7 linked regions of the Homo sapiens genome follow. The protein of the gene in region 6 purifies or fractionates together with the protein of the main gene of each other region. This does not show direct contact. Each region holds a gene or a part of one and is shown on either strand. Other genes may lie near its edges. The genes, in order: AHCYL2, NKAPD1, CCDC12, MORC2, CDC40, DHX8 and CACTIN.

The links.
Region 1: the proteins of DHX8 (region 6) and AHCYL2 purify together in Homo sapiens (affinity purification with mass spectrometry; 3 studies listed by BioGRID and IntAct, with this or other methods). This does not show direct contact.
Region 2: the proteins of DHX8 (region 6) and NKAPD1 purify together in Homo sapiens (affinity purification with mass spectrometry; 4 studies listed by BioGRID and IntAct, with this or other methods). This does not show direct contact.
Region 3: the proteins of DHX8 (region 6) and CCDC12 purify together in Homo sapiens (affinity purification with mass spectrometry; 4 studies listed by BioGRID and IntAct, with this or other methods). This does not show direct contact.
Region 4: the proteins of DHX8 (region 6) and MORC2 purify together in Homo sapiens (affinity purification with mass spectrometry; 3 studies listed by BioGRID and IntAct, with this or other methods). This does not show direct contact.
Region 5: the proteins of DHX8 (region 6) and CDC40 purify together in Homo sapiens (affinity purification with mass spectrometry; 3 studies listed by BioGRID and IntAct, with this or other methods). This does not show direct contact.
Region 7: the proteins of DHX8 (region 6) and CACTIN purify together in Homo sapiens (affinity purification with mass spectrometry; 4 studies listed by BioGRID and IntAct, with this or other methods). This does not show direct contact.

Annotation. Positions count from the first base shown.
Region 1 is NC_000007.14:129,427,259-129,431,042, reverse strand, and holds the end of AHCYL2 (adenosylhomocysteinase 3), read right to left. Parts: 3' UTR 832-3,784; downstream 1-831. UniProt on the Homo sapiens protein: May regulate the electrogenic sodium/bicarbonate cotransporter SLC4A4 activity and Mg(2+)-sensitivity. On the contrary of its homolog AHCYL1, does not regulate ITPR1 sensitivity to inositol 1,4,5-trisphosphate.
Region 2 is NC_000011.10:112,080,455-112,084,397, forward strand, and holds part of NKAPD1 (uncharacterized protein NKAPD1), read left to right. Parts: coding exon 1-104; intron 105-1,527; coding exon 1,528-1,581; intron 1,582-2,010; coding exon 2,011-2,518; 3' UTR 2,519-3,943.
Region 3 is NC_000003.12:46,966,521-46,970,463, forward strand, and holds part of CCDC12 (coiled-coil domain-containing protein 12), read right to left. Parts: intron 1-3,943.
Region 4 is NC_000022.11:30,965,609-30,970,241, reverse strand, and holds the start of MORC2 (ATPase MORC2), read left to right. Parts: upstream 1-1,467; 5' UTR 1,468-2,352; coding exon 2,353-2,420; exon of another isoform or gene 2,421-3,176; intron 3,177-4,633. Other genes in the region: TUG1 (taurine up-regulated 1), read right to left, coding at 424-885. UniProt on the Homo sapiens protein: Essential for epigenetic silencing by the HUSH (human silencing hub) complex. Recruited by HUSH to target site in heterochromatin, the ATPase activity and homodimerization are critical for HUSH-mediated silencing.
Region 5 is NC_000006.12:110,214,638-110,218,580, reverse strand, and holds part of CDC40 (pre-mRNA-processing factor 17), read right to left. Parts: intron 3,296-3,943; coding exon 3,250-3,295; intron 880-3,249; coding exon 778-879; intron 1-777. UniProt on the Homo sapiens protein: Required for pre-mRNA splicing as component of the activated spliceosome. Plays an important role in embryonic brain development; this function does not require proline isomerization.
Region 6 is NC_000017.11:43,504,101-43,508,043, forward strand, and holds part of DHX8 (ATP-dependent RNA helicase DHX8), read left to right. Parts: intron 1-543; coding exon 544-725; intron 726-2,902; coding exon 2,903-3,097; intron 3,098-3,402; coding exon 3,403-3,588; intron 3,589-3,708; coding exon 3,709-3,919; intron 3,920-3,943.
Region 7 is NC_000019.10:3,619,992-3,623,934, forward strand, and holds part of CACTIN (splicing factor Cactin), read right to left. Parts: coding exon 3,697-3,943; intron 812-3,696; coding exon 716-811; intron 282-715; coding exon 136-281; intron 1-135. UniProt on the Homo sapiens protein: Plays a role in pre-mRNA splicing by facilitating excision of a subset of introns. Required for the splicing of CDCA5/Sororin, a regulator of sister chromatid cohesion. Involved in the regulation of innate immune response.

The sequences.
Region 1 (3,784 bases), on a different chromosome or scaffold from region 6:
AGACCCAGGCACCCAAGGTTCCATCCTTCACAAATGAGGAGTCAAGCCCTACTGCAGGGGAGCAAATCCTTTGAGCTGACCGGCTTCATTGCTAGCTGCTGCATTCTCCTCCTCTTAACTGGAATGGCACTAATTTTGAGGATTACTGACTGCCCAGACGATTCTAGCCCTGTGTCCCTTAATCTAAATAATCAGAAGCCAAAGTGGCAGAAGATTCTGCTATGAAAAGAAAACATCTTGCATACAGGATGCAGAACTAGTTTAGGTAGTCAACTAAAGAAGGTGGCTATCAGAAAGCTACCCAAAGATGGTTACCCTACTGGCAGTTGAGAAAGAATAGGCAATTGGATTATCCTTTGGTTAAATCAGGCAACTTGATTTAGAGACAAATCTCTGCCTGATGCACTTCTTTCTTCCCTTTGGCTGGATATAATCAGGTCCTAGTTATCAAGGTCCTTTGGTCCCAAACTGGGGGATGCTGATTTCCTGCATTTTTCAACTAAAAGGGAGTCAGGGACCTAGAACTATGGTTTAGTTTCTCTGAGTTAAGCCTACAGTCCTCGACTCCCCAGGGTGGTGGTTCTGAGAAGACAGGTTCTTTACACACACAGCCAGGATGCGCGTGTATGCTGGCTGGTAGGAGGGGAACATGATATTTATTAACTAAGGTCAAACATGCCTATTGGTAACATTTTCACATCCTAAGGTCAAACATGCCCATTGGTAACATTTTCACATCCTTGCCCTACAGCAGGATCTCTAGTTTGTTGCCCAGAGATCTCTCTCATCTCTGAATTTCTAGTTCACAGAAACAAGAAATACCCTTAAGAGTCCATGTTAAGAATATTTTATTTGTTTTTTGAGATTACATAGTCATTATTGCTGATCTAATACAATCACTTAGACATAAAGATTTCCAAGAACTTCTCAGAAATGGTGATCTTTAGAAGTGTTATTCCTTTCAGTAAGATGACAGAACTAGATGATTACGTATATAGATATATAGATATATATATATATATGTATATATAGAGTTTAGAACCTGTCCACATATAATTTGCTGGTGTTGCCTATTTTCCTTCCGTAATTTTCCTTTATTGAAAAAGCTTAATGCAACAATGCATTTTGATTCCTTTTTAAAAACCACGGCAAAGTTAATTTTGAGAAAACCACAGGAGCAGCAATATCAGATCTGTTTAGAGAAAAGCGAAGCAGCATAAAAGCTTTGCAGGAGTATGTGGCCATGGGGAGCCGTGCTCATATGGGCAAGTAGGATAGGGAGGGAGGAGAGCAGAGGGAAGGTAGAGTAGATACATTTTTTTTCTTTGTTTAAATGAAAAAAAGAAAACTGAATATCTCCATTAAGAAGGCAAAAAAGTGCCAGGCACGGTAGCACACACCTGTGGTTCCAGCTACTCAGGAAGCTGAGGCAGGAGGATTGCTTGAGCCCAGGAGTTTGAGACCAGCCTGGGCAACATAGTGAAACCCTGTCTCTAAGGGTGAAAAGAAAAGAAAGAAAGAAGGCAAAATATTAGCACAGATTCATTGTAGAGAAAATGTTATGTATCCTCACAGACTGGAGCCACATACAAAGAGATAAGTAGCCTTCTTTCCCATGCTTCCAGATAACCAGGATGCATCTAAGGTAAGAGGTTGGAGGAAAGAAGACACATTGCTCTGATTCCAAGGGTAGAGGGAATAATGACCAGATTTCAACCCTAAGATAGAACCCAAATACTTGGGAGGCTTGTGGTTCTTTCTTCTTAATGGTTGATAACACAGTGTCCCTACAGAGAGGTCATCTGAAACTCAGAGGCAAATAACTCATCATGGGCAGCAACACTGGCAACCTAACTTAGAAGCCCCGTGTGGCCCCTTTTTTATTTGGAGTGGGTCTCTTCACTACAGCAAGGCAGAATGTACTCTTTAAGTACCAGCACATAGTAAGCTCCAGAGAGCAAGGCTTTGCTGAGAAACAGCAGGTTATGATTTTTGGTCTAAGAATACAATAGGCTAGAGACCATCTATCTGCCAAATGGAATCTGCTCTGGATATAAGATAAGGTACAAAGATCTGAATCCCTTGCTAAAGGGAACCAATTAATACAAAAATCAGGACTAGGTAGGCAAAAGGAAGAACTGAATGGCTTAGTGGAATTTTTAGCATTTATGATCTTCCTTACAAAAAAAGAATATAACCAGTACTTGCTGAGACATATGGCCTCTGAAGAACTGTAGTCTATGGGCTGAGCCTGTATACTATTAAATGAGGCAAACAGTCATTTACCAAAGTTCCACTTCCCTACTTCCGAAAGTAAGGTCACTTTCAGACTAGCTTTGAGAGTATATGTGAAGACCAGGAGAAGTTGGAGAGGGTAGAGGTAGAAGAAGAGAATCAGGATGGGAAGGTTTTGGTGATCATGCGTGGTCTGGTGTTATCTTGAGTCACCTTGGTCTTGAGACTTTGAGGCAGACCAGCATAGGAAAAAAGTGGGAAACAAACAAACCTGAGAGTGTTAAAAAGGATCGGTAAGGGGAAGAGGCTTATTTAATTCAAGTTTCCTAGGGCCAGTCCAGACTAACTCTTAGAACCAATCTGGTCCTAATGAAATGCCTGAGACCAACAGATCAGTCTCCAAAAGGAATCCAATTTTTGGGTGGGACATAAAATGTCACGCTGCCCACACCACATTACTAATTCTTTTTGTAGCACTGGAGTTACTCAAGAAACTGACTCTGAAATACAGAATCATCAAATGGAAGAGGTTAAATCATAAAAGATATGCCAGCAGAGAAGTCCACAGATCAGACTGCAGATCTCGGTTTCATCCATGGCAATGGCCAAAGGAATGAATGTCTGACGAGGTTCAAACTAGTCAAATTAGCTTTGATAATCTGGATACAGTTTACAATTTCATCTCTGTATCCCTCAGCCAGTCAAACTGCAATGGCCTTCCTGGGAAACAAATAAATATACTCTGCTTTGTTAGGGTATCAAGCTGTGAGTCTGAAAGACCTGTCCCATTTCCAAAGCCTATCCCCCTAAGTCCCTGGAAAAGTATGCCTTTCCCTACTCAGTTTCAGACGTAGCTTTAGGCAATAGCAGGAAGTTTCAGGAAGCAGTGTTTCACAACAAGCTCTCCTTTTCTGAGATAGTGCCAATCTGGAGGGGCTTCCTTGGAAACTATCCAATCAAATGACAAGGAAGTAAAACTATGGGTCCCAGTGGAGCTGGCCCCACTTCCTGAGCAGACGTTGGCTGGATTAGAAAGACAGCAGAACAAATGTCTGACAAATACCAAAACTGTGGAGGAAATAATGGAGGCACATCCCTCTTGCAACCAGGAAGTGTTAAAATGGACATAAATATTCAAGGAGAAGAAAGGAGTCCTGGGTAAGAAAGGAGACCCCTGGTAGGCACAGCACAGCTGAGTTCTTGATGTAGCTTGGCAAAGCCATAAATAACACTCCTTCCTTATTAGCCTTTATATAAAGAAGGCAGTGATAGTGATGGTCAAGATTGGGAACCCAATCTTGTGTGAAACACTGGCCATGTTAATTCCAAACGGCCTCACCCGGGGAAGGGCCAAGCTGAGAAAAGCAGGTGCTGAAAATTTATTCCAGAAAACTCCAGGGAATAGGGAGTATGGAATCCCTGGACTAACTCGTGAGCCTGGACAAGAGGAAAAACGGCCACTGCTGAGGATTCAGTCAATGGGGAATGATGCAAATGATGCACTGGGAGCAGTAACCCCATTTCTTTCCTTCCTCAGCCCATCCTCTGT
Region 2 (3,943 bases), on a different chromosome or scaffold from region 6:
TGGAGGCCAAAGAATGAAATTTCTGGGACACTGGAAGATGATTTTCTTAAGGCTAAATCCTGGAATAAAAAGTTCTATGATTATGAAGCAAACATGCCAGACAGGTTTGTGATTAATTCCTGTGAGCATTAATATTTGGCCTGAGAACGTGTACTTATCAAAATTAATTGTCCCCACAAAAAACTTGTGTACAAAAGTTCATACCAGCATTATTAATAATGGCCCCAAAAAATAATGGCCAAGTAATCCAAATGTCTGTCAACTGATGAATGGGTAAACAAAATGCGATATATCCATACAATGGAATATTATTTGGCAGTAAAAGAAATGAAGTACAGATACATGTTACAACGTGGCCTTGAAAACATCATGCTAAGTGAGAAGGAAGAAGCCAAGTCACGAAAGACCGCATATTGTATGATTCTATTTATGTACTATGTCCATACATAACTGTATGATTCCATTTATGTGGTAGGCAATTCCATAGAGACAGAAGGCAGATTAGTGATTGCCCTGGGCTGGAGGCACTACACTTTGAATGCCATGATATGTGAATTATACTTCAATAAAGTTGTTATTTAAAAAAAATAGGCCAGGTGCTGTGGCTCATGCCTGTAATCCCAGTACTTTGGGAGGCCGAGGCGGGCGGATCACGAGGTCAAGAGATTGAGACCATCCTAGCCAACATGGTGAAACCCCAGCTCTACTAAAAATACAAAAATTAGCCGGGCGTGGTGGCATGCGCCTGTAGTCCCAGCTACTCGGGAGGCTGAGGCAGGAGAATCACTTGAACCCAGGAGGTGGAGGTTGCAGTTGAGCCGAGATTGCACCACTGCACTCCAGCCTGGCAACTGAGTGAGACTCTGTCTCAAGAAAAAAAGAAAAAAATAATAATAAGGCTGGGCGCGGTGGCTCATGCTTGTAATCCCAGCACTTTGGGAGGCCAAAGCGGGCAGATCCATGAGGTCAGGAGTTTGAGACCAGCCTGGCCAACATAATGAAACCCCATCTCTACTAAAAATACAAAAATTAGCCAGGCATGGTAGCATGTGCCTGTAGTCCCAGCTACTCGGGAGGCTAAGGCAGGAGAATCACTTGAAATCGGGAGGCGGAGGTTGCAGTGAGCTGAGATCACGCCACTGCACTCCAGCCTGGGCAAGAGTGAGACTCCATCTCAAAAAAAAAAAAAAAAATTGTCCCCATGTAGACAGCATGATATTATGAAGTGTTTTTGGAAAAGTGCTTCATAGCTAAAGAGCAGAGTGTAAGAGTTCGTTAGTGTTTCTTAAGGAAAGCAATGGCAAGTTCTCTTACAAATGGACAAAATAATCTTGTATGTCTGAAGTGATAGTGTACAGTACAGGAAATGTAGCTGTTACTGAGCTATAATGGGGGCTTGGTTCTACCATATCTCTACTTTGTGTTTATGTTTGTGTATGCATGTACTCCAAAGTCTTTCTAATGTTGCTTTAATTTCCAAAAATGTATGCATTGCTTTAACAATACATGTGATGTGTCATATTACAGATGGGGTCACAGTGGTTATAAAGAGTTATACCCTGAAGAATTTGAAACAGACAGGTAAGGAAAATAGGCTTACTGAAAGAAACTAAGATGGTACAAAATCTGTATTATAAATTGATTTCTTAACTTTTACGAAGAATATACTTGCCATCAAAAATGTAGCTAGAGAAACAATAGGTGATTTAGTTAGGAGGTGATCCCTGTTTTCCCATTCTCTGGTTGATGTTTGGCATGTCTGTAAGCATTTTGGTTTTTATATATAGTATTCCATACAGTAACTCAGTATGGCAGCTTAGAATTTTTACCTTCATTTTAAAGATGAGGAAACAAAAACTCAATGAGAATATTAAAGTGTTAAAGTATACATTAAAGTGCTTATTTAAAATTCAGATGTTAACCTCAATTTTTTAATCTAGAATGCAAAATATTAAAATAATACGCTTTTTTTTTACATAAAAGCTTCTATTTTTTAACTTTTCTTATTAGTAGTGATCAGCAAGATATTACCAACGGGAAGAAAACATCTCCCCAGGTAAAGTCATCTACCCATGAATCCCGCAAACACAAGAAGTCAAAGAAATCCCACAAAAAAAAGCAGAAAAAAAGGTCACACAAAAAACAGAAGAAAAGCAAAAAGGAAGCCACAGATATAACAGCAGATTCCTCGAGTGAGTTCTCAGAAGAAACTGGGGCTTCTGGTACAAGGAAAGGGAAACAACCACATAAACGCAAGAAAAAATCCAGGAAAAAGTCTCTCAAAAAACCTGCTTTATTCTTAGAGGCAGAAAGTAACACTTCACATTCAGATGATTCAGCATCCAGCAGTTCTGAGGAAAGTGAGGAAAGAGACACTAAGAAAACCAAAAGGAAAAAGAGAGAGAAAAAAGCCCATACCTCTGTAGCCAACAATGAAATACAGGAGAGGACAAACAAACGCACAAATTGGAAAGTAGCTACAGATGAAAGGTCTGCTGAGAGCTCAGAGGATGACTAAATGGGAAACACTTTTGTTTTCCACATGACTGTGGATATTTACAGTTCTTACTCCTTGTGGTTTTGCCAGTGACTCTTGTTCAGCACGGGGCCTGAGGTCAGAGCTGTCTTGTGCCATCTGTATGTTCTGACAGACGTCTTGTCTTCTATTTTGGCGTTAAGCTTGATCCCCTTTTCTTGTTAAAAGGGAATCTGGTATTTTGTTATGAAGGTTTCTTGAAGAGATTATTTTTTTTTGCAATTAATTACGTTTAGTGTAGAGTGCATATACAGCAAATTAAAGGACCCAGAAAGCTGGATCCAATAGTGACCTGGGTACACCAATCGGAATATTGAATTTGGGGAAGTCAAGGGCTGGGATCAAGAGGTGGATTGGAACTAATGCCATGTAGGATGGTATGACAAGGCAACACTGTATTGCTCTCTGTTTATATAGCAGGTGTCACAACTAACTTGTCTTTAGCCTTGGTGCTTTGATCCTTCTATATTTTGACCCCACAGGTGTGGTCCGGTTTACTTAATCAGGACATGGGCCTAAGAACAAACCTTTTCCCTTCATGATAACATCCATAGACAACTTATTAGAAGGGACTAGAGTTTTTGCAAATTTCCCTGCTGGATGGGGCCTATAGCTATACTTAGTATATGCCTAAACATGGTAATTGGATAGTAAATGGTTTTCTAGTTCCATTGCTGTATATTTGCCTAAATGGACTTGTGTTCAAATTATTTCTTCAATTGTCATAGATAATCCTGTACCAAATGGGGAAGAATTAGGAAATAATCATGTTGTCTAATGGTACTCTGGATTCAGGGCAGCAACTGCCATTTAAATGTTGTCTTGTTCATTTCTAAATCTGTTCATGAAGTTTAGGTTTTCCCTGAAACTAAGTTGAATTATTTCCAAAATGAAACAGGCTTCTCAGGGACATATCCACTTCTTCCCAGTCTGCCTTTGGATTAAAGCACCAAGCAGAGACCACATTAATTCCCTTTGCTATACTGTGATCCTTAGTATGTTAATTCTTAAGAAACCAACATATCACTGAAAGAAGGCTGGCAGAACGCAAGTGCATTTTTTCACTGTGGGAAGAAAGATCAAGTGACGTATTATTTTTTCCTGGTTGTCACTTAATGGGCTGAGTAAAAAGCTTGAAAACTCAGACTTTCGGTCTTGGTTCTGCCACTCATTGGTTATGAGGAGGCCCAGAGCAGGTAAGTTCACCTTCCTGGCCTTACTTTCCTGATGTGTAATACGGAATTACTTCACAGTAGCATGACAGTATAAGACACCAGCAGTAGATACAACTATGATGACATTCCATGAGTTGGTATTTTTAGTTCTAACTGCTAAATTTGTTCTCTTTACGGGACAGATTTCTAATAAAGTGCTTGGTCTTAAAATACATGGTTGGACAGAGGTGCC
Region 3 (3,943 bases), on a different chromosome or scaffold from region 6:
AAAAAAGAAAGAAAGAAAGAAAGAACGAAAGAAAAGGGCTAGAGTTGCTAGAGTGGCAATATGAAGACCTGAGCACTAGCAAGAAGGCTGCCAGCATCCAAACACCAGGTGAGTTCAGACAGCAAGGCTATAAGGGCACTGCCTCAGACTGGCGCTACCCTCCTGAGAGGAGGGATGGATGTCCCGGCTGGGGTCCAGTGAGGACTTCAAGCAGTGGAAAGGAGGCTTAATTTACAGGAAGGCTTTGGCCAGCATGCTGCACCTCAACCCAGCTGGCCTGGATTCCACTGGCACCACACACTTCCCTGAAACAGCTGGACCAAGCTCACCTATCACCTTGTCTTGCCAAAACCCATCCCCAGTCTTCGCCTGGCTTCTCTCAGCCCCACTGTCCTCATGCCGCCCCACCCCACCAAGTTTCCTTGGATTCTTCTAACTCCTGCTAAATACCTGCAGAGCGAGCCTCAGGGCACAGAATGATCTCCCAGTCCTCTGTCTCTGTGGTCTAAGCTCTGTCACCAGAGGGCCTCGTCTAGCCCCAGGGCTTGATATCCTGTATCTGTTTCTAGTCCAGATGCCTGCTTATGTCTCTCTTCGCTTACCTGTCTAACAGTCATCTCTGGCTTAATGTGGCCAAAGCCAGACTCTTGCCTTCCCCTTCAAAGCCCCTCTCCCCTGTACTTTGCCATCTCAGGAACCCTGTCTGTGCGCACTGCCTCACACCTGGGCTCCTGCAGCTGCCTCCTACCTCCACACACAGTCATCCAAGGGCATGTCAGCTTTGCTCAGACCTCCAGTGGTTCCCCAACCCCCTTAGCCTGAGGTCCAGCCTTGGTGGTCTGCAAGGCCCCCTTCTAACTAGCCCAGCCTCCCAGGCCCTCTCCACCCTCATCCCCCTTCCATACCTCCCACTGTTCACTCTACTCCTACTCCTCAAACATGCCAAGCTAGTCTTGCTCAGCTTGGAATGCTCTTCCCTAGATCTTGGCATCTCACTCCTCCATCCCCGTCTCAGAACTCCCAGGTGGTGGTCTTCCCAGCCTGGGCAGCTGCACAGCCTCTCCCCAACACACACACCACATTCCCAAGTTCCTGGGACACATAAACAGGGACACCATGTTCCTTGTTTCTAAGTATTCCCACTCCTTCCATAGAAGCCCCTTGAGGCAAGGAGGAAGTCTTGTTCATAGCTGTATCCCCAGGGCCTGTCATACAGCTGGTACTCAATAAATACTTATTAGTGGCTAGCTGCAGAGTTCCTGCAGTGAGCATGGGCAGCTAAGGTTCCAAGGGAAAAAAAAGTATCCTTCTTCCAATGAGAGAATGCCAGGGACTGATCAGAGATGTCCAGAAAAATTCATCAGAATCACCTGGGGAACTTTAAGAATGCATGAATTTATAGGCTATATACCAAGACCACAATAGGTCTGAGGTAGGGCCAGAAAAAAGGACTGCAAATTGTCTCTCAAGACAACCCAACGAACAGGTAGGTCTGAGAAACTCAGATAAATCCAACACCATCATTTCATACGTGAACATATTGAGGGCCTCAGAAGGAAATGCTGGCTCACCATAGGTATGTGTTGGGAACCCCAAATCTCCCACCCAGAAGATTCTCCCTCTCACTGCCTCCACAACCTTGGAGTCTGAGAGCTTGGGCAGAAAAGCTGAGTCCTTAGGAAGAACGGGCACTCACACTCCACCTCGGCTGTGACTGCAAATCCATTTTCTTCTTAATCTAACACTTTGCACTAACACTCCATCTTCAAAAAATTAGGGCTAGGATGAGTAAAGCCAGGGTGCAGGAGAAGGACCTCTTTGCTTCCACTGGAACCGGGCCAGTTCCACCCACTGTCACCCAGCGGAGAAGGCTGCAGGACCACCTGGATGTCCCCACTTACAAGAGGGTAAAGAAGAAAGGACAGGCATCCACGTTTATAAAAGGCCTGTGTGCAAGATCTCGAGCTAGACACTTCATAGACAGCATCTTTCTCTGTTCTCCTAGCTACTGATGAGTTCAGAAGCTGTATCTCGATTTTATAGACAAGAGAGAGGCTCAGATTTTTCAAGGCTTGCTCTGAGTACCATAGATGCGATTAATGGAGCAGAGGTTTAAATCAGATCTGTCTCCAAAGTCCATTCTCTCCACTCCACCACTAGGCCTCCACCTGGCAGCCTGGTTACAGTTTATATGTGTGATGGGTGGAGGCTCCTTCCCGGGAGGTACTTATTCCCAAGCACCTGGGGGTGAGAGGTGTAGAGGGATAGAAGGCCAGAGCCTAAGGGACAATCTAGGGTCAGCAACAACTCAAAGCACGACTGTGGGATGTTCCTTCAGCCCAGGGTTTCCTGGTCTATCAGACAGGGATGAAGCAATACACCCTGCTTCAAAGTCCTGCTTCAGGGATGGAACACGATTCTGCCACAACTGCCACGCAAATGTTATGACTGCCAACCTGCCAAAAGCTGTCAATACAGGCGGCAGTGATCGCCTTGGCTGACTTTGCAACCAGGCTGCTGGGCCTGGGGATGTGGCCACATGGGATGTAGATAGAGGCAACTTCTTGAGACATGATCAGGACACGGACAAGTCTGACTCCTCACCCAGCATACTAGGCCTCTCACCCACTGCCTCTGTTCCTCCAGCAAGACTTGCTAGCCCCTCCCTCTGGTTCCCTCTTTTACCCTCCCCCAACCTGGCCAGGGACCCTCCCTAGTACTCCCAAGTCAGAGAGTACTAGTGCATGCCTTCTACCTTGGCATTGCTCCCACTCTCTGCACTGTGCATTTTTTTCTTTCTGTTTGTTTTTTAATCCTCCCACCTCAGCCTCCCGAATAGCTGGGACTGCAGGAGCGGGCCACCATGCCCGGCTAATTTTGTTTACTTATATTTGTAGAGATGGTGTCTTGTTATGTTGCCCATGCTGGTCTTGAACTCCTGAGCTCAAGCGATCTGCCCACTTTGGCCTCCCAAAGTACTGGGATTACAGGCGTGAGACACCACACCTGGCCCGCACTCCCATTTCTTGAGTGTGTAAATCACAACTATACCACTCTGAATCACCAGCACTTAACTCCACAGGGTACATACACAGATGGCCCCAAATCAGCATCTGATGGAGATACCAGCCATGAATATGGCCAACTTCCAAGCCCTCTGCCCAGCTTTGGGCTCCCAAGGCTGATGTGATGGTCATCTGGGTTTCCACTTGCCCCTTAGCGCTCAACAACTGGAGCTCAGGTAGAGACACAGTTTCTTGTAAGTCAGGCTGAAGGGAGCAAGTCCTCCAGAGATGCACCGTCGAATAAGGCAATCACGAGTCAAGTGTGGCTGTTTAAATGTAAACTAACTAAAATTAAATGTCGCAGTAGCCATATTTCTTTTTTTTTTTTTTTTTTTGAGACAGGGTCTCACACTGTTGCCCGGGCTGGGGTGCAGTGACGTGATCTCAGCTCATTGCAACCTCTGCCCCTACCAGGCTGAAGCAATTCTCCCTGCTCAGTCTCCCAAGTAGCTGGAACTATAAGTGCACGACACCATTCCAGGTTAATTTTTTGTATTTTTTGTGGAGATGGGGATTTGTCATATTGCCCAGGCTGGTCTCAAACTCCTGGACTCAAGTGATCTTCCTGCCTCCACCTCCCAAAATGCTGGGATTATAACAAGCTTGTCCAACCCGCAGACCAAGGCCCAGGACCACTTCAAATGCAGCCCAACACAAATTCGTAAACTTTCCTAAAACATTATGAGATATTTTTTGTGATTTTTTTTTTAAAGCTCATCAGCTATCATTAGTGTTACTGCATATTATGTGTGGCCCAAGACAATTCTTCTTCCATTGTGGCCCAGGGAAGCCAGAAGATTGGACACCCCTGGATAACAGGCATGAGCCACTGTGCCTGGCCGGTAGCCACATTTCAAGGGCTTGAAAGTCACAGGTGG
Region 4 (4,633 bases), on a different chromosome or scaffold from region 6:
TTGGAAAACTTGCTAGCGATGGATCATCATTCCCCTAAAACGCACATTCCCACAAATTCCCATCATTCCCCCAAACCGCACATTCCCACAATTTCAGGAAGTTTGGGGATCCCCAACTCCAATCCAAGGTTCCCAGGTTCAAAACCCAAGGATTGGGGAACTGCTAAGTTTTCTTACAACTCAAAAAAAATTATAAACAATAACCATCCTTTACGTACACCCACGCTTTATAGTTTACAAAGCGATTTCAACCCCACACACATTGATAGGCAGAGGAGGAAACTGAGGCGCAGACAAATTACAGAGTGACTCGCCTAAGGTCACTCCGCCAACTGGTGGCTAGGCCCGGAAGAAAACCCAGCTCTTCCGACTCCGGAGCTCGTCTCCCCACCCCGGGGCTGCCGCCAGAGCTCCCGCCCCTCACTAAGGCGGCATAAGGAGGAAAAGGCAAAGTAGAAATCCCACAACCAACCATCCTCCGGCCCCCTCCTGCCCCCCCAACTGGGTCCTTGCAGGCCCCGAAGGGTGGCGCCAGGCCTCCAAGCCGGCCCCGGCCACCCCCGCCTCCCCGGCCGCTCCAAATCCCGCGGCCGCTGCCGCCGCCGCCTCCCCCGGAGCGGGGCGGAGCAGCTGCCCGCCGCCGCCGACCACCCGGACGACTCCTCGTCGAATCGCAAACGCATAGGCCGCCGCCCGAGTTCTGCGTACGAGAAGAAAGACGCGGCGCGAGCGCCAACGGCCACCGGGCGCGCGCCGCGGCGGCCGGGCCTGCGCCCCAAGAGCTGGATGCCAGAGCAGGAGAAAGAGCCGCCAACCGATCGCTCGATCGACCGCACGCCCGTTCCTTCGCCCTACCAGACCCGGGAGGGGGGGAGGGCGCGCCAGGGCTTCTTCGATTTAGGGGCCTGACTCCCCGGCGACGAGACAAGATGGCTCCTCCGGTCCGCACCGCAGCTACCGTCCCGGCTGCGTCGCTCGGCCCGCCCCCGGTACTGTTTCTTTAAATGGCGGAGAGGGTCAGGAAAGCAGGAAGAGAGGCGCACGCTGTCACGTGACAGGGGCGGGACCGGCCAACCAAGATCCGGTCACATGGGGACACGCAGCCCGCCAATCAGGAGGCTGTACATCAGGGCGGGGGCGGGAGGAGCTGCAGCTTTGTGATTGGCTGAATGCTCCGCGGAGGCCTCGGGGGCTTGGGGCGTCGGGGAGTGTGCGAGGTGGCCGGGGCTGTGTGCACTATCGGAGACAAAGCGGTGGCTGTGGTGTCTGTGACGGCGGCGGCAGAGCAGCTCTAAACGCCGAATTTCGTGTTGCTGAATCCTGTCACCATCTCAACTAGCGCGGCGCGCGGGCGGCGCGCGGGCGGCGGCGGAGGCAGCGGCGGCGGCGGCGGAGGCGGCAGCAGCACATGGTTCCAAGAGCGCTCTGCGGCTGTTGGGTTCCAATTCCGCGGGGAGGGACAAAGGCAGTTGTGAGATCCGGGTAGTGCCCGGTCAGGTGGTGCGCTCGCCACTGCCCTCGATCCGGTCCTTGGAAGCCGGGAGTAGCTCCTCTTCGTGGGGAGGCGGCCACGGGACCGAGGCCCGGGAAGGGCCTGGGAGGCTGAGGCTGTTGTCTGAGGGACGTGGGGGCGGGGCGCGGCCTGCCCGAGGTGCTGTGGGCGGGTCATTTGTGAGGTGTTTATGTGGGCCAAGTGTGAGGTAATCTGACCACCACCCTGAACTGGGTTTGGTCCGGCTTTGAAAAAAGAAATCGTGAGTGCCTAGGAGCTTTTTCACTTGGGAGGTGGTGAAGCTGCAACTTGCGCCATATAACACTCCGTCGACATCTTGGTCTCCGGTCTTGGGCCTGTTTAAGAATCCTGGCATCACGTGTGGCGAAGACATGGCTGATCAGTTTTCTGACAGAAGTGGGTAAATTTCCGCGTTGGTAAATTTCCTGACAGGAAATTTCGGGGAACCAAAAAAGGCTGGAAGAACATGAAGATGGAGCAGTCATAAACCACCCACTCAAGGACCATCTCCTTCAGGACCATCCACACGAGACTCAGATTGTCTGAATTGAGCTATCGCAACTTAATGCTAAAAGCTCCTTAAAGCTACAGATTTATGACATAGTTCCTTCCAAAATATTACATCATAAATCATTGAGAAGATTAAAAAAAAACACTTGAAGAAATTGTAGTTTTAAACATCTCTGCATATATTTTGGATAGCTACTAGGTTACTTTAACTGTCATTAAGGAGCACAGACTTACTGAAGCTTTACTGGACAGAATCCTGGGAAATCGATATCATTATAAGGTTATATTTCCCAGTTAGCGGGTGAAGGGCTGGAGACCTTATTGCAGTCATGGCTTTCACAAATTACAGCAGTCTGAATCGAGCTCAGCTAACCTTTGAATATCTGCACACAAATTCGTAAGTATCCTCTAGGTGCCACTGAGGTAACCAGTAACTCGTTCCTTGATATTATATGGAAATCGTTTCCCCAGAAAATTTTGCTTTTTCACTTTTTGAGATGTATCCCACTGGAGTGAAATGTGTCACTGGATATCTTGAGCTCTGTATTGAAGAACTGAGATCAGTGAAATACTTGTTGCTAATCCAGAAGAATCTGATTTTTGTTTATTGGATCAAAATTTTCTAAATGCAAACTTTAGTTATTTGAAGTCAATATGTTGAGTTGTTTCATTCAAGTGTTTATAGGAATCCAACAAATACTGCTCTATTGGATCGCCAAATGTTGGACTATTTTAGTATCAACCGTTTCCCCTCTGTAGTGACAACGTCCTAAACAGTTAGGTTTATAACAAGTGTTTACTTTCTAACAAGAAAACAGAAGACATTTAAATGACAACTTTCAAGAAGAAAATTTTTATTTTTTCAGAAGTTGGCATTATCTTCCTGGCAGATTGCTCACATCCAATATTATTTGTATATGCTAAACAGGAAACGGCAACTTGTTTATATCTCTATTTAGATAGTCTTTCCCCAAAATTTCCACAGAAACATACAGTGTTCATGGTTCTTGAGTTCATGAAGGAGTAATCTAATCACTCCAACATGGTCTGGAATGTTTCAGGTTTAATCCATATGCCCACTCTCTTGGAGGCTGTCCAGTAGCGTCAAAACTTTAGTGTTTTAATACATTCACCTGTTACTTTTGAGATGAAGGTAAGTGTTCTAACATTCTAGTACCTGGAGAGGAGATGAGCAGCTACATGAATGGTCCAGTCTCTGAAGAACCCACTTCAGAGTCGAGAGTATAGACTTCCATTATGTAGTAATAGTACAATGGTTTTTAGCTTTTGATGGAGAAGACAACATGTTTGTGATATCATAATGTCTGTAATATTTCTATTTTTCCTTTAAAGGGAATAAAATTTTGCCAAGTAGTGAAGCAAACTGTCAAATGGTGAAAGCCTGTTTTTATTTTTTTTAGGAAGTTTGTTATTTTTTTGAGAGACGGAGTCTTGCTCTGTTGCTCAGGCTAGAGTGGGGTGGCGCAATCTTGGCTCACTGCAACCTTCACCTCCCAGGTTCAAACGATTCTCCTGCCTCAGCTTCCCAAGTAGCTGGGACTACAGGCATGCACCACCACGCCCAGCTAATTTTTGTATTTTTTTAGAGAGACGGGGTTTCACTATATGTTGGCCAGGCTGGTCCCGAACTCCTGACTTCAGGTGATCCACCCACCTTGGCCTCCCAAAGTGCTGGGATTACAGGCATGAGCCACCATGGCCGGCCTGTAGCAGTCACCTAGGTTGAATTCTAACACTTAAGTATGATGACCCTGAAACACACTTGGGTGAGGTTGCTGATTAGTGATTATTCAGCTAGTTGATAGCATAGCCTTGGGAAAAAACTTTAGTGTCCTTTTTAATGTTTGAACTGCCATATTAAGAACAAGCAGTTGAAGGCCACTTAAATGTTCATGGATGACTGTGTTTGATAAATGGTTATCTCAGCTCTGAATTTTGGAATGATGGTAAGTCTGGAATTACAGATTTTATGATAATCTTGGAAGACCATGAACTGGACTTCAGAATTTCAGTTCTTGTTCCAGCTTCACCAAAGACTTTATGGGATAATAATAGTAACAACAGTTAATTGCTTCATATCAGTCACTATTTTAAACATTGTCCAAAGCAATCTTTACAGGAAGCCTTTGGGATAAGGATTATTCCTATTTTGCATTTGAGGAAACTGAGGTTCAAAGAGATTAAATTACATGGTAATGGCTATATAGCTGCCAAGTGGCAGACTTAAACGGTGCCAAGATTTAAGACAGTGGGATTTATCTGGCCACAGTAGTTGGTGCTTTTAACCATTAGGCAGTGCCTACTGTAGTCAGTTTTACCTTCAAGAGCCTATTTGCTTGTCTATAAAGCAAAGGGTATACTTCACAGTTTAAAAGTCTTCAATTTTAGTTTATCTCAATGAATCTCTAAGGACTCTGGGATATTTCTCCCTTCTTTTTCCCCCTTTGCTATTTTATAGCTTATTGATAGATACTTGGCACTGCCAAGGAAAGGAAAGAAACCAGTTAAGTCATTTGTTGGGGAATTTTCTGGGACTTTGACTTACCCATGTTGAACTGGAACCACCTGCTTGCATGAACATTTGAGGGT
Region 5 (3,943 bases), on a different chromosome or scaffold from region 6:
TATGGGCTTTGGCATCAGAGAGAGCTTCGTTTGAACCCAAGTCTGCTACTTATTAGCTGTGTGACCCTGAAAAAGTTAGCTCTTTAAGCCTCAGTTTCCTTATCTATAATATAATAATAGTACTTACCTCATAGGGATAAATTAAGATTGAAGGAGACACTGAATATCAGTGCTTAGCAATTATGCCTGTTAAATGATGTTTAATAAACATTAACTATTATCATTACCCTTCAGATGCAGTAAGGGTAATGACAGTAAGACAATAAGATAGTAAGATAATTTTTATAATTACATAAAATTATACTAGCCACAACATATTAATGTGAATCAATTAATAAACAGCAATTAGTATGGCTGTGAATATATAAAACCAACTGGCCTGTGAAAGTTGAGACCTACATTTTAATCAATTTGCGCAAATACATTTAATTTTGTTCATTAGACATTTATTGCACTTCTGTTATGTGCAATGCACAGTGCTAGGTGATGTAGGGGAACAAAAAAATCAATTAGATGGCCTATACAAGATTTCCACTTTGCTTATTTGTCAGTACGTTTGCTTTATAAAATCTATCTGGTGGAAACAAGTTTCACAGTGAAAGAGCTACTCATGCTCAGTTTCGACTTACAAATGTATTTTGTGATATTTGCTGACAGTGAATGGTATGAGAATCAGCAGTTAGAGAAGGTGCCATTTTGCCACAAAAGACTACTCACACCATTTCAAATATAAATAACTTGTAAGATGAATGTGTATTAGCATAAGTGAACTCTTACCTGTCTCAGTGTCCCAGAGCTTAAGATACCTGTCATAGGCTGCACTGAGGAACTGTGTTCCTGCAGTATTGAAGCAGATATCCCTAACAGCCTTACTGTGACCTAAAGGTGGAGTCAACAGAAACAGCAATGAGGTGAAGTATCATATATCTTCTTCTCTTAAAACATTAACACCATAAAGACAAACAGCACTAAGCAGTGGTTCTCAGCTGTGAGTCAAGATCACTGGAATGCCACCGCCTGATTTACTGACTTAGAATATGTTATGTGTGGGCTTCAGAATGTGGGCGTTTTTTTCCCCTTGAAGAAGCTCCTCAGGTGATTCTGATGCATAACATCTTGGTTAAGAACCAAGAGGAAAAGGTTTAACTTTTCTTTTAAGTCTGCCATAGCAATTACTTAATATGCAGTACATACAAGTGATGACTAGCTAGCCAAGAATTTATGGAAATGTAAAAGACCAATTATTGCCAGTGAAAGAAATGGCTGCTGGAATTTTGGAGGTTCACTCTCAGAATGTCCACCAGGCTGCAAGTGAAAACAAAGTGCCCCAAACCTAAAGTTCAGGAAACTGTAGCCCTTGTTCAATAATTGTATATTTCTGTGATCACATTACCAAATTTCATAGAAACTGATTCAGAATGTAGGAGACTTTCTGAAAACTATATTAGCTTGCATGGTTTTTTATTTTTATTTTGAGATAGGGTCTTGCTCTGTTGCCCAGCCTGAAGTGCAGTGGCTGGATCTCAGCTCACTGTAAGCTCAACCTTCCTGGCTCAAGCGATCCACCCACCTCAGCTTTTCGAGTAGCTGGGATTACAGGTGCACACCACAACGCCTGGCTAATTTCTGTATTTTCTGTAGAGACAGGGTTTTGCCATGTTGCCCAGGCTACCTTCTTTTGCTTTAAGATGATATTTTGATAATACACTAATTTTAAGGTGCTGATTATTATACTTTACTTAAAAATGAATATTGCCAGTTCACTCAACTCTTTTAAAAGTTACAGGGAAAAATAAAATGTGGCTAAACAAAAGCAAAAATGTTCCTATTTTTGCCACCCCACCATGACCAAGACACGTACAATTGTGCAAAATGAGCATGGCACAAATTGTTAACCACATGCAGCAGCTCTAAACCATCACCTCCAGTGAACTCCCATCAGGAGGTACGTGTCATGGTAATTAGGCATCCTTTTCTACAGCTGGAGTCCCAGTCAGAGCTTCTATCATCTCCTTCAGGAGGAAAATTTCAGTTTTCCACAGAAAAATGGTCTGCCAGTAGAGGGGAGACAGATGCGGACCAAATCCACTCTATCTGATGGAGACATTTTGTTCCCCTGTACACAGCTGAGAGCCTTCCACAAGTCTTCCTTTAGGCTGCGGTGACATCTTAGGCAGTATTAATTTGTGCAGGGAGGCCTTAAAATCATAAAGCACTGCTGAACAGACTCCCACTTTAATCTAAAAACAGAGCCACTACGAGTCACACCGTTTCAACGTGGTACAGTTAAATTTGGAATGAGTAACTAGCCTTCACATGAAATCTGACAAAGACAATAAACCTTTCTCTACCAAAAATCTGGTTTGTCACAAAGCTGTCCTCCCTTTGGCCTTCTTTCTTTCTTCAAGGAGTTCTCTCAATCTCATCCTTTTTTTATGCTTTAGCTGTCAATTCCCAGTCTCTCTTCAAAGCTCGACCTCTGGCTATCTAATTGCTTACTGAACATTTTTACCTCAATATCCCAAAGGCAGCTCAAATTTGGTGTATCTAAAACCTTACCATCATCTTATGTTCCTTCTTGGTGAATGGCACCATCGTTCATCCAGCCTCATGGGAGTCACTCTAGATTCCTGTCTCACTGTGATCATTCACATGCCGTTACTAAATCTCACTGACTTTAACTCTAATACGTAGTTCCTTTCTTTTCTCTCTCTGCTGCTTTGGTTCAGGCGCTCATCATCTCTAAACCAGACCTATGAAATAACTGTGTAATTAATTTCCCTTCCTCCAGGCTTGCCCTACCAAATCATCCTGCATATTGCCATTTGATCTTTGTAAACTTCAAATCATGTTGCTTTCCGGCAAGAGCTCTTTAATGGTTCCCCAATGCCCTCACAACAGAGGCTAAACTCTTTATTAATGGCACAGGAGGTCTTCCATACTCTGGTCCCTCTCTTGCTACTTTTCTCCGCTTTTGTCTCTCACCATCCCCCATACTCTGACAATCCTGAAATGTACGTGGATCCCCTCAGCAGCACGCTGTCTCACACCATTTTTGTTTTGCATCCGCTGCTCTTGCTTCCTAGTTCTCTTTCTTTGTCTAACTGGGGACACTGACTCCTCCTTCCAGATTCAGCTGAAATCTATGAAGAGTTTACTTCCTATCGGTGTAGTAAAGTTATTGTCAATGATGTTATCTTACTTTAAAAATTCTTCCCAGATTTATGTTGGAGAGAAAAGAAGCATTACCAATAAATGTTCTCAGACAGCGCCGTTCTCCATAAACCTCCCATAGCTGGGGGAGAAAAAAAACAACACATGGAAATATTACATTTAATAAAGGTCCTTCAATTAATAACAACAGCCCTATGCTGGTTATGTGTGTGCACATCTGTGTGTGTAAACGCACAGCTTCAATCATTAAATATTAAACACTGAATATCATTAAATATAGCTTGGTGCTGCCAGTTTGTGTTATATTATTTGGAACACACACACACAGAGTCACACACGCTCAAAACTAAAGAGTTTTAAAGATATTTACATCAAAAAAGAGACTTAACTATAGATGGAGTTAATTCAGGTAAGTTTTCATTTTCATATTGTTCTTTTCTATTTCATACATTTTCTAGGATGAAAAGTTTCTACTTTTGTAGCACTACAAATGACGTTTAAAGGAATTGTTATTAAAACTGCCATGTATATAACATTTTGATACTGAAAGCCTTTTCTGTTTACTTTTCTGAATAACAAGTATTACAGAAGCTGTAAGAAAATGATGATCTAGACTAAAATAAAAGGCTCATAATTCTCAGCATATCTAAGGTGGATTAATACAATAGCTTCAAGGCTAGCTTTATTCTTGACTGCCTTGAATCCAATTCTCAACAATGTTGCTAGTACTCTAAAATAGAAAGCATTTCCTTGCCACTGGTGCCAATAG
Region 6 (3,943 bases):
AGTGTAACATGGTTTGTGAATTACATCTCGATATAGCAGTTATTTAAAAAGGGGAGAGTGCTGCGCATGGTGGCCATACCTGTAATTCCATTACTTTGGGAGGGTGAGATGGGTGGATTGCTTTAGCCCAGGAGTTCGAGACCAGCCTGGCAACATAGAGTGACCTCTTCTCGCTTGAGCCCAGAAGGTCGGGGCTGCAGTGAGTCAGGATTGCACCACTGCACTCCCACTTGGATGACAGAGCAAGACCCTACCTAAAAAAAAATAATTCCAGTGTCAAGCAGTCAGGTCTTCACTTCTCTCAACTAACCTTTTTTCTGACATCACAGGTGTGTAGCACCACTTGTTACAGTCTCTTTCCCATTCCCTGCTGCCCCTTCTATATTCTTTTCTTCACATTAATTTGTTTCTTTGAGTACTTTTGATCACGGGTCGCTGAATTGAGATGCTGCATGTGCAGTGCCCGCATGCCATTTTATTTTTTTCCTGGTACATCTTGAGGTAGCTTGAGGACAATACTAAGTTGCCTGTTTTCCTTTCCAGCGGAAGGCAGACAGATTGCTGCCAACATGAGGGGTATTGGGATGATGCCCAATGATATTCCTGAGTGGAAGAAGCATGCCTTTGGGGGCAACAAAGCCTCTTACGGAAAAAAGACCCAGATGTCAATCCTTGAGCAGAGGGAGAGCCTGCCCATCTACAAACTGAAGGAGCAATTGGTCCAGGTGAGAAGACTTTTATGATGTATTGGTGGGGAGTAGGGTTATTGTCTAAAAGAGGGGTGATATTTTTAAACTGAAACTAACGGGACAAGTATGTGCCTACTTGAAGTGGCTCATCCAAAAGAGTTAAGAAAGAAGGATAAAACTTTCTAAATACTTTTTTTTTAAATGGGGCTGGGCGCGGTAGTGGATGCCTATAATCCCAGCACATCAGAGGCCAAGGCAGGAGGATCACTTGAGCCTAGGAGTTTGAAACCAGCCTGAGGCAACATAGGGAATCTTGTCTCTACAAAAAATAAAAAATTTGGTGGGGCGTGGTGGCCCACACCTGTAATCCGGCACTTTGGGAGGCAAAGGTGGGCGGATCACAAGTTCAGGAGTTCGAGACCATCCTGGCCAACACGGTGAAACCTTGTCTCTACTAAAAATACAAAAAATTAGCTGGGCGTGGTGGCGCATGCCTATAATCCCAGCTACTCTGGAGTCTGAGGCAGGAGAATCGCTTGAATCAGGGAGTCGGAGGTTGCAGTGAGTCAAGATCACGCCGCTGCACTCCAGCCTGGCTACAGAGAGAGACTCTGTCTAAAAAAAAAAAAATTACCTGGGTGTGGTGGTCCATGCCTGTAATCCCAGCTACTCGGGAGGCTGAGATAAGAGGATTGCTTGAGCCTGAGAGGTCGCGGCTACAGTGAACTGCAATCACACCACTGCACTCCAGCCTGGGCGACCAAGTGAGACCCCATATCACAAATGTTTGTGTGTGCGTGTACAGACACACATACTTATGTATGTGTCTGTATATCTTCTTTTTCCTGGGGCCCCTAGAACAGTTTCCAAGTGGGCAGAGTATTGTGTTGCATGGACCAACAGCTCTGTTCAGTAATTAAAAATGAGGATACTCAGTCAATAAACTCATATGGGCAACTCATAGAGTGCTTCGGTACTCTATATTCTGGAGTTCTGATTTTAAGACCACCGAGTCTTCCTTGAGGTAATCAGGTTTACTAGTTTCTAGTGAATCCTTTCAACAATATCTTATATGTATACAAGCAAGTACAAATATATGCACACACACGCACACACATTTTATATGAGTACTGTGTGTGTTTACAGGTGGCAGTGATATTATATACACTGTTCTACATCTTTTTCCACTTAATGATATATCTCAGAGATTTGTGTGTGTGTGTGTGTATGTGTGTGTGACAGAGTCTCGCTTTGTGCAGGCTGGAGTACAGTGGCTTGATCTCAGCTCACTGCAACCTCTACCTCCTGGGCTCAAGTGATCTTCCCACCTCAGACTCCCAAGTAGATGGGACTACAAGGCATACACCATCATGCTCAGCTAGTTTTTTGTATTTTTTGTAGAGATGCGGTCTCACTATATTGTCCAGGCTGGTCTTGAACTCCTGGACTCAAGCAATCCTCCCTCCTTGGCCTCCCAAAGTGCTAGGATTACAGGCATGAGCCACTGTGCCTGGCCTTCTTAAACAAACAAACAAAAAAAATTGCCAGGCCAGGCACAGTGGCTCACACCTGTAATCCCAATACTTTGGGAGGCCAAGGCGGGCGGATCACCTGAGGTCAGGAGTTCGAGACCAGCCTGGCCAACATGGTGAAACCCTGTCTCTACTAAAAGTACAAAAATTAGCCGGGCGTGCTGGCGGGCACTTGCAGTCCCAGCTACTTGGGAGGCTGAGGCAGGAGAATCACTTGAATCCGGAAGGTGGAGGTTGCAATGAGCTGAGATCATGCCACTGCACTCCAGCATGGGCGACAGAGTGAGACTTCATCTCAAAAAAAAAAAAAAAGCCTTTTTTTATGGGCTGTATTATTTGGATAGGCTCTGGTTTATTTAACTAGTCCTATATCCATAGAAACATCGTTGATTGTAATCCTTGGCTGTTACAAACAACGTAGAAATAAGAAATAACTTTTGGGGAAAGATATAGAAATTTGGGAGTTACAGTGGGAAGGAACATTTTTTATGTATCTTTTAAATTCATTGTTGACTTCTTTAACTATATGTGTATATTCCTCTTTTCTTTGGTGTTAGAATATAGTAATTATTTTATTCCAGAGTAATGTAGATTTTAATGACCATATTTATATTCTGTTTAATGACCATATTTATATTCTGGCAGATTTTAATGACCATATTTATATTCTGTTGCTTTCAGGCCGTCCATGACAATCAGATCCTGATTGTCATTGGTGAGACAGGATCTGGAAAGACAACACAGATCACCCAGTACCTGGCGGAGGCAGGCTACACTTCCAGGGGCAAGATTGGGTGTACCCAGCCCAGAAGAGTGGCAGCTATGTCGGTGGCCAAAAGAGTGTCAGAGGAGTTTGGTTGTTGCTTAGGCCAAGAGGTAAGTAGATAGTGGAGTCGCTCGAAAAATACCAGAAGCAAAGGCCCAGGTCTCTTAATCTATCAAATGGAAATATTAATAATACTGCCTTTTTTCAGGTTTCTCCTGAGGGAGAGAGGGTTCCCATTGTCATAATCAGTCTGTTCAGAGTATAGTCTAAGACATACCTTACTATGAGGAAATTACTGTACATCTTGATCAGATTCTTAAGATTATGAGTGAGAGTGACTGGGCTGAAATCTTGCCTGGTGATTGGGAAAAGGAGACATTTGTATCCTAGGTTTTCCCCTTCTCTTCTGCTTTAGGTGGGCTACACCATTCGATTTGAGGACTGCACTAGCCCTGAAACAGTCATCAAGTACATGACAGATGGGATGTTGCTTAGAGAGTGCTTGATTGACCCTGACCTCACTCAGTACGCGATCATCATGTTGGACGAGGCACATGAGAGGACAATTCACACTGATGTGCTCTTTGGATTGTTGAAAAAGGTAACTAGATGCTCTTTAATGACCCCTCTACCTGTTGGAAGCTGAATTCTGGCAGTTGGATTTGAGTACCTGTGTCTTTGGGTAGTCCTTTTCAGTAAGCCACATAATATTTCTCTTCAGACAGTTCAGAAACGGCAGGACATGAAGCTGATTGTCACCTCAGCCACCTTGGATGCAGTGAAGTTTTCTCAATACTTCTATGAAGCTCCCATTTTCACCATCCCAGGTCGAACATATCCAGTGGAAATACTGTACACAAAGGAACCTGAGACAGATTATCTGGATGCCAGCCTGATTACTGTTATGCAGATTCATTTAACAGAACCACCAGGTAAGGGGAAAAAGCAATTTTCCT
Region 7 (3,943 bases), on a different chromosome or scaffold from region 6:
GGTCAGGAAGGGAAGGTCCCAGGAAGTGCCGTGTGGGACCCTGAAGGGTGGGAGAGCAGTGGCTTCCAGAGTGACAGCCAGTGCCCGGCCCTGGCTCCAAGTCTGGGTCGGAGGGAGGGGGAGGCCCCAGCGCACCGCAGCTTGGCCTGCTGGAGGTGGAAGTTGTCCTCCTGCTCCTCCCATGTCTTGAAGTGCTCTGCCTCCTTCTCGCGCTGCAGCATCTCCAGCTCCTGCTCGCGCATGGCCTTCTCCCGCTCCCGCTCCAGCCGCAGCTGCTTCACCTGCAGGCACAGGAGGCTGAGGGCAGCGGGGACCGTGCGGTCTGCAGGGCTGCGGGGGGAGGGGCTGTGATGATGGGGGCCCAGCCTTCACCCAGCTGCCCTGGGCACAGGGATTGGTCCGGAGATGCCTGGGCTGGTGGACAGACCTTGGGAAGGGAGAGGGCCCTCCTGCCCGAGACTCAGCAGCTCAGATCAGCTGGGGCCCTCTCGGCCACCCTGAAGGGAGCATGTGGGAGTGAAGGCCCGAGGCCAGCAGAGCCGAGAGGTGGAGGGAAACAGTTTCCTGGGGCCATGGTCTGAGCCCCTGGATCCAGCCTTACCTGAAGCCAGCCCCCAGGACTTCCCACTTAAGCCCCTCAAGTCCTGCCAAAGGGGGCGGGCCTCCAGGCCCTGGAAAGGGAGGGCCCTGCCCAGTGGGCTGGCAGGGTGCCTACCTTCTGCAGCTCCAGCCGGTTGTCCTCCTGGATCCTCTTGTTCCGCTCCTTCAGCTCCTTCTCCTCCAGGTGGCTGATCCCCTTCTTCTCCAGGGCCTGGAAGCACCAGGCACACCTGCCCTGAGCACAGACCCGCCCCCTCGCCCCCCTCCTCAGCTCCTTCGTCCAAGAGATTGACCAGGGCCCTTGTTTTGCAGAGAGAGGTGACCTGCCAGCACTGCACGTCTTCCACCCCCTCCTTAACACTCCTGAAACCCAGTGCATCCAATTCAGTGCAGACATGGAGCCCCCACTGGGAGTGAGATGTATGCAAAGGGTAAGAAGGGGCTACCCCAACTCTCAACAGGAGGGCCTCACTCGGGGCCGCCCCAACTCCCAACAGGAGGGCCTTGCTCGGGGCCACCCCAGCCCCCAACAGAAGAGCCTTGCTCGGGGCCTGCTGACTCGCTTTACCCGGGAGTCTGAGTGCTTCGGACGTGAAGGCCACGCCCTCAGCAAGTCAGGGTCCCCCACTGCACGTGGGACAGGGCAGGAACAGTGAGTGGGGGCAGCAGCAGCTCTGAAAGCAAACCTGTGGGGTCATGGGGCCCCGCCCACACAGCGGGGCACAGGGGTGGCCACTGATGGGCTTGTCCCAGCCTGGAGACCCTCAAAGCTGGCTTCTTCCAGCAGCTGTCTGAGAGCCTGGCGCGGAGCCCCCACTTCCCGACCACCTTCCTCAGGCTCCCGGTGCCCCGTCGCCATGAGGGGGTTCCAGGAACCCCTGCCGCCCAGAACTTGCCTCCAGGGACACAGGCTGCCTGGCTGGGGACCACCCCCAGACACCCGGGCCACTCTGTGGTCTATCCAACCCAGCCTGGGGCCGCTTCCACAGGCGTCAACGATGACCACATCTTCCTCCTCCATGGCTGCCCGCCCAGAGCTCACGGTGGTGCCCAGCACACCGCAGGTGCACAGCACATGGTGGCGATGAAGTGCCAGGCAGCAGTGTGTGCCTCAATAAAGAACTCTGGGGGGTCTGGGGAGCAAGGGGCCAGGAAGGGGTCTCTCAAGAGGGGATGTGTCAGTTGAGGCCTGACGGAAGAGAACAGCCGGGGAAGGGGCAGAGCATGTCCAGGCAGGGGCGCGGCAGTGTGAGGGCCCCGAGGCGGAAGGAGCTCGTTGTGTTCTCAGACGACATCGGGCAGAAGCCACCTGGAGACCCCACAGCTCCCAACTGCGCAACCGGCGAGCAGGTGCAGTCGGCCCAGCCCACACGTTGCCTGCTCCACCCCCTCCACAAGTGGATGCTGCTTCAGATGAGCTGTGTCCCCCACAGGCACATCCCCGTCTGAACCCCTGCAGCTGTAATCATGACCCCATGTGAAATGAGGTCTTGGCCAGGTATGGTGGCTGACACCTGTAATCCCAGCATATTGGGAGGCCAAGGCGGGCAGATCACTTGAGGTCAGGAGTTCGAGACCAGCCTGACCAACATGGTTAAACTCTGTCTACTAAAAATACAAAAATTAGCTGAGTGTGGTGGCACCCGCCTGTAATTCCAGCTACTTGGGAGGCTGGGGCAGGGGAATCACTTGAACCCAGGAAGCGGAGGTTGCAGTGAGCCGAGATTGCGCCTTTGCATTCTAGTCTGGGCAACAGAGTGAGACTCCATCTCAAAAAAAAAAAAAAAAAAAAAGTGATGAGGTCTTGCAGACGTAGGTAAGATGAGGTCATCCTGGAGGTGGCGGGCCCTCATCCAATGCCTGGTGTCCTCATGGGAAGAGGAACATTTACACACAGACACACAGAGCAGAAGGCCGTATGGAGACAGAGACGGGAAGGCAGACCGCCACACAACACAGGAACAGGCCGGGTTCTGCGGCTGCAAGCCAGGGAGGGCCCAGGAATCACCGGCCATGACTGGAGCTGGGAGAGGCAGGAGGGGCCTCCCCTCGGCCCCCAGAGGGAGTGGGGTCCTGCCCACACCTGCCCACGCCTTGATTTTGGACTTCTGGACTCCAGAACGAAGAGATGATAAGTTCTGTTGTCTTATGCCACTGGTGTGACTGGTGGCTAAATGGCAGGCGCAGAACGAAAGAACCAGCTCAGACGACAGAGCGCCTGGAACTGTGGAACCCTGTCCTGGGTACATGATGCCAAGAGCTGGCTCTCTAGATAGGTTTCAGGTTGGGCTGGTGTTCGGGGCAAAGAATGGCTGAAGCTTACACCGCAAGAGACACAGTTAATGGCAAGAAAATGACGGTGGGCTGGGCGCAGTGGCTCATGCCTGTAATCCCAGAACTCTGGGAGGCCGAGGTGGGAAAATCACTTGAGCTTAGGAGTTCGAGACCAGCCTGGCCAACATAGTGAGACTCCATCTTTACAAAAAAATAAAAAATTAGCCGGGCATGGTGGTGGTGCCTGTAGTCCCAGCAAGTCAAAACGCTGAGGTAGGAGGATCGCTTGAGGCCAGGAGGTCAAGGCTGCAGTTAGCCACGATCACGCCACTGCACTCCAGCCTGGGTGACAGAGCGAGACCCTGAGTCAAAAAAGAAAGCTGGCCGGGCGTGGTGGCTCACGCCTGTAATCCCAGCACTTTGGGAGGCCAAGGCGGGTGGATCACAAGGTCAGGAGATCGAGACCATCCTGGCTAACATGGTGAAACCCTGTCTCTACTAAAAATACAAAAAATTAGCCGGGCGTGGTAGCGGGCGCCTGTAGCCCCAGCTACTCAGGAGGCTGAGGCAGGAGAATGGCATGAACCCGGGAGGTGGAGCTTGCAGTGAGCCGAGATCACACCACTTCACTCCAGCCTGGGCGACAGAGCGAGACCCTGTGTCAAAAAAGAAAGCTGATAGCGGCAGAAGCTTGCTTATGCGTGTGTGTGTAAAACCAACTCTTGCACGATCAAGGGCAGGCTGGGAGTGTCTCAAGTGTTGGGGTCTCCAGAAACAGTGGAAATGCTACAGGGACAGAGGCCACCACCCGGCGGGGCCCACCTTATTCCAGATGAAGGTGCCCAGCAGGTTGTTGTCTCCGAAGGGGTTGTCGGTGTTGGTGTAGCCCATGTACTCCTCACCCCAGCCCATCTTCTCCCGCTTCTTGCGCTCCTTGGCCTCCTTCTTGGCCAGCCGCCGTGCGCGCTTCTCCTCGGGCGTCTCGAAGGCCTTCATCAGCTCCTCCTGCTGCTTCCGCTCCTCCCGCAGCCGCAGCCGCTCCTGCAGGCTCTGCTGCTGGCTCAGGGCA